3 linked regions of the Homo sapiens genome follow. The protein of the gene in region 3 binds, or shares a complex with, the protein of the main gene of each other region. Each region holds a gene or a part of one and is shown on either strand. Other genes may lie near its edges.

The links.
Region 1: STRN3 (region 3) and STRIP2 share a complex: the UniProt entries of both Homo sapiens proteins name them as parts of the core of STRIPAK complex.
Region 2: STRN3 (region 3) and PDCD10 share a complex: the UniProt entries of both Homo sapiens proteins name them as parts of the core of STRIPAK complex.

What each region holds. Positions count from the first base shown.
Region 1 is NC_000007.14:129,454,870-129,458,523, reverse strand, and holds part of STRIP2 (striatin-interacting protein 2), read right to left. Parts: intron 3,281-3,654; coding exon 3,153-3,280; intron 2,086-3,152; coding exon 1,882-2,085; intron 1,825-1,881; exon of another isoform or gene 1,512-1,824; intron 702-1,511; exon of another isoform or gene 442-701; coding exon of another isoform or gene 310-441; coding exon 74-309; intron 1-73. UniProt on the Homo sapiens protein: Plays a role in the regulation of cell morphology and cytoskeletal organization. Required in the control of cell shape. Calmodulin-binding scaffolding protein which is the center of the striatin-interacting phosphatase and kinase (STRIPAK) complexes.
Region 2 is NC_000003.12:167,686,331-167,689,984, forward strand, and holds part of PDCD10 (programmed cell death protein 10), read right to left. Parts: intron 1,364-3,654; coding exon 1,285-1,363; intron 987-1,284; coding exon 904-986; intron 1-903. UniProt on the Homo sapiens protein: Promotes cell proliferation. Modulates apoptotic pathways. Increases mitogen-activated protein kinase activity and STK26 activity. Important for cell migration, and for normal structure and assembly of the Golgi complex.
Region 3 is NC_000014.9:31,019,794-31,023,447, forward strand, and holds part of STRN3 (striatin-3), read right to left. Parts: intron 1-3,654. UniProt on the Homo sapiens protein: Calmodulin-binding scaffolding protein which is the center of the striatin-interacting phosphatase and kinase (STRIPAK) complexes.

The sequences.
Region 1 (3,654 bases), on a different chromosome or scaffold from region 3:
TAGACTACCCCATCTTGGGCCTTTGGAGACTGAAACCCCGAAGCATAGGGGTCCCTGATGCTATCAAACCTACCTGACCTTTGGGGCCCAGGGCAGGCCCTTGGGAAAAGCCACCCGCTCAGCAGAGAGGGGTGCCTGTGAGGGTGGAGGTGGCACCAGAGGGTCCTGCTCTAGCAGGTCTAGCTCTCCATCCAAGGTTCGTTCTCCATCACCAGCAGACTCCTCTTCCTCCTCTGTGGCGGGCTCCTCAGTCTTGAAGAGATCCCTTTCATTGTAGATGTCCAGGCTGTCCTGCTTAGTGAGGAGTTGCTGGAGGGGAAAGAAGGGAGGGTAGGCATGCAGAGATCTCACTCTGGGCATCCTTGTCTGAGGCCACCCCATATCCACAGGCCTCCACATTTCAGGGAACATGGAATCTGAACACAGCCCTTGCGAAAACATCCAATTCCCCACCTTAACCTACTGTCCCCACCCGGCCCAATAACAGGACAAGAAGTTCTCAGGTAACCCTGCCATTAGCCAGGGAACATAGCATAGATAATCCCAAAGTCACAATTACTTAGCTTTCAGAAAGCAGTGATGCCTTTTTTTGCCAGCACTTTCCTTCCTAATTATGCTCTGCTTAGGTGAACATTCAATTAGTTTGCCTTCTGTGAGCATACACCAGCTGGCTGACTGAGGAAGAGGAGGACAGAAGCTTGCTGCTAGGCAGAGGGAAGCAAGTTTGGAATTTTAAATCTTGTGACAAAGAAAAAAAGATTGGACAGAAATAGGCCAAAAAGTTAACAGTGACTGTCTCTGGTTGTTAAGATTGTGGGTGATTTTTCTTTTCTCCCTTCATCACATTTTTATATTTGTTCCAAATTTTCTACAATGAGTAAGCATTACTTTATAAAACAAAAATAAAGTTAAAAAATTTTATTGCAGATAATGGAGACTGGATTACTGAGCACTACTATCTAGCCCTGTTGATAAACTGAAGTGGGTCAGGCAGGGGAGTTTGTAAGAACATAGTCAGATCTCAGTATAACTTTTCATTCTGACCTTTTCAGGACAGCAGACTATAGTCATGTGCTGCACAACGATGCTTCAGTCAACAATGGACTGCATATGTAATTGTGGACCCATAAGATTATAATACTGTATTTTTATTGGCCTTTTCTAGGTTGAGATACACAAACACCATTGGGTTACAATTGCATATGGTGTTCGGTATAGTAACCTGCTGTACAGGTTTGTAGTCTAGGAACAATAGGCTATATGCCTAGGTGTGCAGTAGGCTATACCATCTGGGTTTGTGTAAGTACACTCTATGATGTTTGCTCAGTGACAAAATTGCATAATGACACATTTTTCAGATTGTATCCCTGTCGTTTAGTGTCACATGGTTATATACATAGACCCCTACCCAGTCATCTCTTAAATGTAAGCCTTTGGTTCCAGGGCCAGTTAAGAGTGTGGCTGGCTGACAGTAAAACTTCCTGGTGCTTCAAAATAGTAAAATGCCTTACCCCAGAAAAATGGATTTGCTTGGAGACCTGTTCCGGTATCCTGGGTCCCTATCCCCAGGATTATACCCTTAATTGTTATTCAGAATGTAAGGAACTCCAGGCACTGAGGTCCAGGCCAATGATTCTGTAGCAAGACATGGCTATATATGACATGATATCACAGTGTCACATCACAACAGCGCAGGGGGCTGTCAGGGCTGGGGGACAGAGGCCAAACTAGAGACCCTAAGATTTCAGGTTGGTCATAGGGCCAACCTGGGCAGGATGAGCCGGGTCATTTACTGCTTTTTCCTACCACACCCAGAGTAACTTAGAATCTTGATTTTTGGCCAGTCGGTGTCCCAATACCATTGTCTGCTTCAGTCCATACCCTTCGAGAGCCACGGCGGCCTCGCAGCTTGGAGGGTGGGGGTGCCAGCTGAGACTCTCCCAGGTCAAGAGTGTAAGAGGGCGGGGAGGCAGCACGCATGCTCTTCACCACCTGGATACTGTCTTCAGCCAGTGGAGGCAGGCCCAATTCTGCCCGCTTCTGTACTTTGAGAGTCTGCAGATGCTCAAATCCACCGAGGGTAAACTAAGGAAGAAACAGGAAAGGGGCAGAGAGAGAGGAAGGAAGGGAAGTAAGAGAGAGCCAAGGTCAGGGAAACATGGATGAAAAGAAAGGGCCACAACCTCCAGTCCCTTCAGACCTTTTCCTTAATAAGGAGGTAGTAAAACATAAAGAGGCAAATATGATTACCATCCCCACGGCAACTGAGGAGCTCAGGGGTCAGGATAAGGCATTATTTACTGCCCCAGTATGGGAAATATCACAGAATTTAGGAAAGGAATTCCTGCGGGCCTCCTCAAAAAAAAAAAAAAAGAAAAAAAAGAAACTATCGACTTTTTTAAGGAACACCATCCAGGTGCTATAAACCCCCAGAGTCACTCAATTTCCTCTGCAGTCAAGAGGCAGTTCCCCCTATTAGGCCTGCCTTGTGAGATGGGAGCCAAAAATGAAGGATCAGGTTGAATAACTAGTAACAGAAATGTAACCACATATTTATAAGAACTTCATTATTTTTTAAAAAGCAAATCCTGGCCAGGCACAATGGCTCATGCCTGTAATCCCAACATTTTGGGAAGCCAAGGTGAAAGGATTGCTTGAGACCAGGAGTTCAAGACCAGCCCAGGCAACACAGGGAGGCCTGTCTGTAAGAAAAAATTATTTTTATTAAAAAAAAAATACAAAACCTCTGTTTATCTGGAGGGAGGGCAGGCACTCACCCCAACCTTTTACAGCTAGAGAAATTGAGGCACAGAGAGTTGCCCAAAGTTTCTCAGTATCAGCAAAGCCCAGATCTACCAACTTTCAACCAGTGTTCTCTCCATCAAACATTGGCTTTAATAAGAGAAGGTACCACTGACATCCCCAATTTATGGAGTGGCATCTCCCATCCATCCAATAGAAACATGAAACCCATTCTAACATAGAACATCTGATGTCTCTAGGACAGCCTTGTTGCCCCTCCATATTAGCAGTTGGCTAAGGGCTGCCTGTTCTGCTCCCTGGATCCAGCCTCCTGGAATGAGACTAGAAGAAACTGAGGTGGCATAGGGCATTGCTGATCTGATAATGTGGGAGTGGGGAGAATTACTCACCATGACCACCTTCCAGAGCAGGAGCAGGACCTTCTTTATGGGGAAGTGAGGAGCCAGGCCACTGCAGAACTTGGTAACCATGGAGAAGAGTAAAAGGGCAAAAGGCTCCTCATTATGCATGGAGAAGCCTAGGGGTGAGGAGAGAGGGGAGTGAGAAAGTGAGGATGAGGCAGCTAAAACCTTTTTCATGTAACCCTGATTCTGGACACACACAGGAAGGCACTCACCTCCCCTGAAGAATACCAGAGTACTTGGTCCTGAGAAGGAGGCTTAGCCCCCAGAAGGAAGCCCCTCAAGGGCAGGAAGGGACGCCATGGAATTAAAATGGCATAGGCCCCAGAGCTTAGGGTGACGCTTTGGGGTTGGATGCCAAACTAGAAGTAACAATAATGAAGACATTGCTTTCTGGCTAAAGGACTCAATGTCATTCACTTTTCCACATCAATAAATATATTTTTAAAATCCCATAGTCCTTCATATCCTATCCCTGTCAGATGACAAC
Region 2 (3,654 bases), on a different chromosome or scaffold from region 3:
GTATATTTCCTATTTTATAGAATGATGCTGTGAAAGCCTCTTTCCAGGAGAGTGGGTCAAAACCCTTACAGCACTTTAAAAACATCTGGGGCACTTTTACAAAATATCTAAACCCTGACTCCACTCCCAGCCAACTGAATCAGAATCTCTGCAGGTGGGGCCTAGGCAGTGGGAATTTTTTAAAAACTGTCCTCAAGTGACTCTAATGCACAGAAAGGATTGACAACTATTGCTTTAACTTTAGTGCAGTAGTTCTCAATAGACCTGTAATGTATCACCTGAAAATTTCTAAGAAATGCAAATTCTTAGGCTCCATCCTAGACCTACGAAATCAGAAATTCTAGAAGTGGGACCCTCGAGCAATTTGCAATTTGACTGTAACAAGTCCTCCAGATGACTCTGATGCCACTAAAGTTTGAGAACCACTGTTTCAGGAGTGTATAAAGTAGGCCAATGAACTAAAATTGCTTTTACATTTTTAAATGGTTAAAAAACAAAAGAAGAATATTATATGACAGGTAAAAATTATTTCAAGATACTGAAATTTGAATTTTGTATAAAGTTTTATTAAAACACAGTCACACCCCCTTGTTTGTACATTGTCTATGGCTTGTTTCTGTACTACAACAGCAGAGATGGGTGGATAACGGCAACAGGCCCACCAAATCTAACATATTTACTACCTGGCTCTTTTCAGAAAGCGTCTGATAACTCCTGTTCTAGAAAGGAGTTATGGCTAGATTAGCAACCATTCATTTTCTATTGTTAATGGTCTGCCTTCATTATCAGTTGCCTGGAGTACTAATAATAAAATAAAAGGGCTTAATTTATGTGGTTTTCATATCATATAAAACCACATAATCTATTTAATTTTAAAAGTAAAGGATAAATTACAGTACTTACTTGCCATCTTTAAAATACGTTTTCAGAGTATCACTGAAACTTTTGGAGTACTTTACAAATTCTTTCTTTTGGTGTTCAAGTGCCTACAGTCACAAAATATAATAAGAAATAAAGTACTAAATAAGAGAAATAATCACAAAAGCCAAAGGCAAGGACAAGAGATTACACAGGATATGGGATGCACTTTATATGAATATTACTAATAAGCAATTGTGGAGTACTCACTTTTAAATAAAAAGGCATATTTAAATTCAAGAATAAACTCAATGGTTAATGACACAAAACTATTTCCAACAATCAATCTTATTTTTAAGTCAATAAAACAACTAGGCATAAACCAACATCTAGGGTGTCAACTAGCAAGGCTTCTACTAAACGTACCCTGCGGTTCTGGTATTGATATTTCTTGAAGACATTATTCACTGTATCAAGAAGTTCTTTTATTGCACTAGCTATATCCCTGTTGGGAAAAGAATAAAGAATATCAGCTACATTTGAAAGAAATTTGTGAGAGAAAAGAACATCAGCTACATTTGAAAGAAATTAAGTACACTCTTAATCTAATCACAGTACACTCTTAATTATGTTAAGCGCAATCACTTCAAGAACAGCCAGCCTTTTCGGCTAGCTGGTTGGAGTGGGGATTTTAGCCTATACCCCTCTGTAATCCTGATTCTCTTGCACTGCTGACCAAAGGTTGCCAACCAAGACCAACTTTCTCAAATCAATCACATTTCATTAAGCGTTCCTTACTCAAATTTATAAAAAGATAAACATTACCTATGCCTGTCTTTTCCCATTTTAAAATTTTTCTTTGCTCTGGCTAATGTAGCTAAATTCAAGCTACCATGTTCTCTACTTTTGTTATTTGAACAAGGAACAATTTTATAATATTCTGCATTACATATAACTCAATTCTGTATTTAACAATGCTGTATGCTAGATACCTATTAGTTTTGATGTTTAACATAAAATATTTCCTCCTCAGAAAATATTCCTCTCCCCTGAGGAAATATTCTTCCTCCCTTACTCTTTTACAGACACTTTTAGCTTCTATCTAGCAGCCAAATATCCTCCTCTTTCAAACACTTACTATCAGTCACTATTCCCTTTGGAAAATATTTAAATTACTAGAGGAGACAACATCACAATATTCTTGCACTTTAACCTTCCCAGCAATCATCCTTTGACTATATATGCATCATCACCTCCCTCCCCTTTCTAAAGAAAAAAAAGAAGAAATGAATAATTCTCATTTGAGTTGACTGTTCTTCCTATCCATGCACCATTTTTTCTGAACTTTTTTTTGCCTTTCTAACTAGCCCCTTTTGATTTCCACATTTTAACCTCATAGCAATTTTTTTCCGCCAAATTGAACTTGATGTAATTCTGCATTCTCAAATAGTCTCACATTCTCTGCGACAAACCTTCTTTTTCACAGTCATTCTCTTAGCTGTTAGTCACAACAAAAACTTCAAATGCAATGCAACTGTGAAGAAATGAATAAGATGGAAATCTGCACCATCCTAAACATAACATTTTATTACTAATACTAATTACAAATGCCAGATTTCAGTTATTTCCTATCTAAAACATTTCAACATTCCTATTTCAAGGGGAAAAAAACCTCAGTGTCCAGGTTTCTGTGTGCATGTGGGTGTTTCCCAGCATATTTTTCAGTAAATAAGCTTGTAGAAATTTTAAGAATTAAAAGCATACAGAATTTTGATATTTTTTAAAAAAGTATTTTAGAGTACTCTGAAGTAGTAATTCCATTTTCATTGATTATTTCAATAATATTTTACTTATTACCTCTCTCAGGTCAAACACTGGTATTGGGCTGAAACATTGAAACATTACATATTCAAGTAGGACAGTAAGTCTTACATAAATGTTATCTAATTTTTTTTTGCCTCTGGTTTAGTAACAGCAGTTTTTAATTAGATAACTATTCCTTTCATTTATGGCTTAAGTTGAATCTTTGTATATTGGTGTGATGGACATAAACCCACTATTGTTTAATAAAATGCTGTCATAGGACTATTCTGTGAGAAAAATTACAATTTCAACAAATAAAACATGTCAAATCTCTAAATATGCAAGCTTCTCCAAATCCACAATGGAGTTATTTAAAATGGAATATAATGGAGCAAATTACATAGTGATCAGACAGAAGTTTATATAGTCTTACTTTGTAGTGTATTTCAATATTCTGCTAAAGAGGAATAAAATGTGTTTCCGGGGCTAGTCATCAAAATGAGCGTATGTTTCATATACAATAACAGTGGCTAGATTCTACAAGTCAAAAGAGTGGGTCTGAAACATGTTGCCTCATGCACCTAGGGAGACAAAAACACAGGGGAGAAGAAGGGAGGGTTTTGCTGGACAAAAAAAGAAAGACCTGCTGATAAATACTGGAAATCTCTATTTTAAAAGGGGGTGGGGGGAGGCGCAACTCCTCAGGTGACTGCTGATGAGTCAGGTTTGAAAACTTGGAGCTAAGGTTTAATGCCTTATTGGAACAGAGCTCTCTGTCAACCAAGGCCATTTATTCCTAAGCCTCTGTTTGGACACGAGGCAAAAGACTGTTAAATGCCTACCAAATTGTAGAAAAAATGTTCTCTAGAAACAATCTGCAGCAATGTATGTCAAATATTATGTTATCCATATGTACACAGAAAAGTATTTTCATTTATGGCACCAAGGTGTGCACATAGAGAAGCTAAATTATATTAGTAACTACCAGAGAGT
Region 3 (3,654 bases):
CAAGCATCAGTGAATTAGAATATACTTTAGGATACTGATGTTACCTATATTACTTAGCCTTTTGAATCATTATAGTCCAGTTCACTCATTTTCTTTTTTTTTTTTTTCTTTTTTAGATACAGGGTCTCACTGTTGCCCAGGCTGGTCTCCAACTCCTGGGCTCAAGTGATCCTCCCATTTCAACCTCCCAAAGCGCTGGGATTACAAGCGTGAGACACCACACCTGGCCAGTTCACAGTTTAAATGAAGCTCTTTCCTACTTTAGAACTTCTGCTAAATGCTGTAGCTTCCAACTGGCATGTTCTTTGTACAATTAGGTATTCCCGATACTTCAGATCTAGAAGTATACATTTAGGAACTTTATGAGAATTAAATGTACTGAAGAACCAAAAATAATGTCAACCATATAGAAAGTGTTCAATAGGTCAGGCGCAGTGGCTCATGCCTGTAATCCTAGCACTTTGGGAGGCCAAGGCAGGCGGATTACTTGAGGTCAGGAGTTCAAGACCAGCCTGGCCAACATGGTGAAACTCCATCTCTACAAAAAATACAAAAATTAGCTGGGCGTGTTGGTGGGTGCTTGTAATTCCAGCTACTCAGAAGACTGAGGCATGAGAACTGCCTGAACCCAGGAAGTGGAGGTTGCAGTGAGTTGAGATAGCACCACTGTACTCCAGCCTGAGTGACAGAGCGAAAACTGTCTCTAAAAAAAAAAAAAGAAAGTGCTCAATAAATATTAGGTATTATCTGAAACTCCATTACATATACAGGTTTCCTATCACCATTTATTCTCTCAGCATTCTGCTAATTTGTTGTAACATTTTATTGGCCAGGCATGATGGCTCATGCCTGTAATCCCAATACTTGGACTTTGGGAGGATGAGGTGGGAGAATCATTTGAGCCCAGGAGTTCAAGACCAGCCTGGGCAACAAACTGAGAACCCACCTGAACTAAAAATAAAAACAGCTTGGTGTGATAGTCCATGTCTGTAGTCCCACCTACTCGGGAGGCTGCAGCAGGAGGATCAGTTGAGCTCGGGAGCCTGAGGCTACAGTAAGCCATGTTGGCACCACTGCACTCCAGCCTCGGCAACAGAGTAGGACGCTCTCTTGAAAAAAAAAAAAATTATTTCTAGAGTATAAGCTCCCTGAGGACAAAGTCTGTGTCTCATACATCATTATACACCCAGGATCTAGCACAAAATCGCACTCAAATATCACCAAATAATCATGCTGGAATCAATAAAACTCACAGGCCATACGCAGGGGGAAGGTTCAATGACCTCTATAGTACTAGCGATGGGGAGGATAGTGTTAACTTTAATGTGGCAAGGAATAAAGAATGAGCAAGTGTGTTTTGTCAAGGGAAAGAGGCAGGCACTTGAGATTAACTGAATGGATGTATTGAATTTGAGGTAGAAAAACTAAACGGAAGTTAGAAATACAAGGGACATCTGGACGCCAAAAATCTAGTAGTGGTTAAGAACATGGCCTCTACAGGCAGTCTAAGTTTAAATCCCAGTTCTACTGCCTCCTAGTTGCATAGATTACTTAACCTTTGGGCCTCGATATGCCAGTGTCAGAAAAAATAAAAAAAAGACACCAATTATACCTGTATCAACCTCACTGAGTTGTTTTGAGAATTAAATGAATACTGAATGAATTAAATGAATACTGAAATACTGAAGCACTGAAATAACAATTAGGAAAGAGTAAATAAATGCTAGGTATTATTAAGATGGTACATGGTAGCTAAAAATCTGATTCTGAATATACAGTGAGAACATAAAATAGAACCAGAACCCCACATAATAACAACTGGGAACAAAAGAAAGAAAACATATGAAGAAAAGTGATAAGTGGATGACAGGAAAAACAGAGCGGAAGCAAAAGAAAACAGTTTTGAAGGATTTGTTAACAACAGAGTGTTGGTTAAGTACATACGGTTTATAAGGCCAAAGGATTTGGCAATTTGAAGGTCAATCATGAACAGAAAACATAGTGTTCTACGAAGTGTTTAGAAGGGAGGAGAGAAGAAAGCGAAAAGGCAGACTACAGAGTGGGGTTAATGGGTAGTGGAGGAGCATAAAGAGAATTCTAGATCAGTGGTCCCTAAACTTCATTTCAAGGGCTTCAAAAAGAAACAGGGAATCTGACACAAGGTAGTGGACTCCCTTAATACTATCAATAAAATTTTTTTAACTATTATCACCATCATCTGAAAAAGGAAATGCCTAACAGTAAAAATGTATGAAGGCTAAAAATCCCAGAACAAAGGGAACACCTTTATGAAAAATCACTGTCGGCCGGGCGCGGTGGTTCACGCCTGTAATCCCAGCACTTTGGGAGGCCAAGGTGTGCAGATCACGAGGTCAGGAGATCAAGACCATCCTGGCTAACACGGTGAAACCCCATTTCTACTAAAAATACAAAAAAATTAGCTGGGCGTGGTGGCAGGCACCTGTAGTCCCAGCTACTGGGGAGGCTGAGGCAGGAGAATGCCGTGAACCTGGGAGGCAGAGCTTGCAGTGAGCCAAGATGGTGCCACTGCACTCCAGCCTGGGCGACAGTAGAGCGAGACTCCATCTCAAAAAAAAAAAAAAAGAACATAAACTCTTTGACTACATTTTCTTGTATTAGCTATGTCATATTTTTACACTTGGCAAACAAGCATTTTGTATATACCCAAAATCCACTTACTACATACAAACTATAAAGAAAAATATAAGGACACATTAGCAATATATATAAACTATGCCTTGCAGCAGCATCACAGGCGCTCAATAAAACTTTATTGAAATGTACTCAAGTGGTGTGGGCCACGCAATACTAGATGAAGAATTACAAGTCAGATTCCACTCTATAAAAAAGAGCTAAGACAGTATAACATAATGGTTACAAGAGTGGTAACATGACTACAGGCTTTGGAATCAGACAGACTTGGGTTCAAATCTCAGCTGCAATACTTTATGGCTAGGTGACCTTGGCAAAATGATTTAACCTACCTAAATTTGTCTCCTCACCTGTAAAACAGGAATACTCACCTCATGAGGTTATAGTGCTGATTAAATGGCAGTTTCTAACTTTTAGAAGTCGTAACATGATAGATGTTGCTGCTTAAAGATCCTTAAGTTAGTAGGAGATATTTTGCTTAGACTTACTTGATTTCTTCATTTTTAAGGGGGGAATCTCCTGAATTTTCCATTTTCAGGGTTTTCAAAAGCTGGTCTGGAATAGTAATTTGCAAATCCTAGTGTCTTTTCCATGACAAGATTTTAATGAATCTACTATGAAATTACAAAAAAGAAAAGTGTAGTGTAGTAATTTTTCTCTTTAACAGGCACTACTGTGAAGAAAGAATCACTTGTAGAACTCTAAAAAATATGCAGGCCTCTTATCCTCTGGAGATCTGGATTGATCTAGGGCTTGAAGAAAATGGACTGTCTGTGGAATTTTGGTAATTCATGTTATATAAAAGTTAAGAAACCACTGTCCTATGACCTTACTAACAATGCTTTACCTGAGTCTAAGGTAAGGAAGAATCAGAGACAGAAGAGCTTTAAGATGTGATCCTTTAGTTTGGTTCCAAGTTTCTAAGACAGACCTTTACTCTAAATTCTTTTTACAGAGAACAGAATCATACTGTAAAGTTCC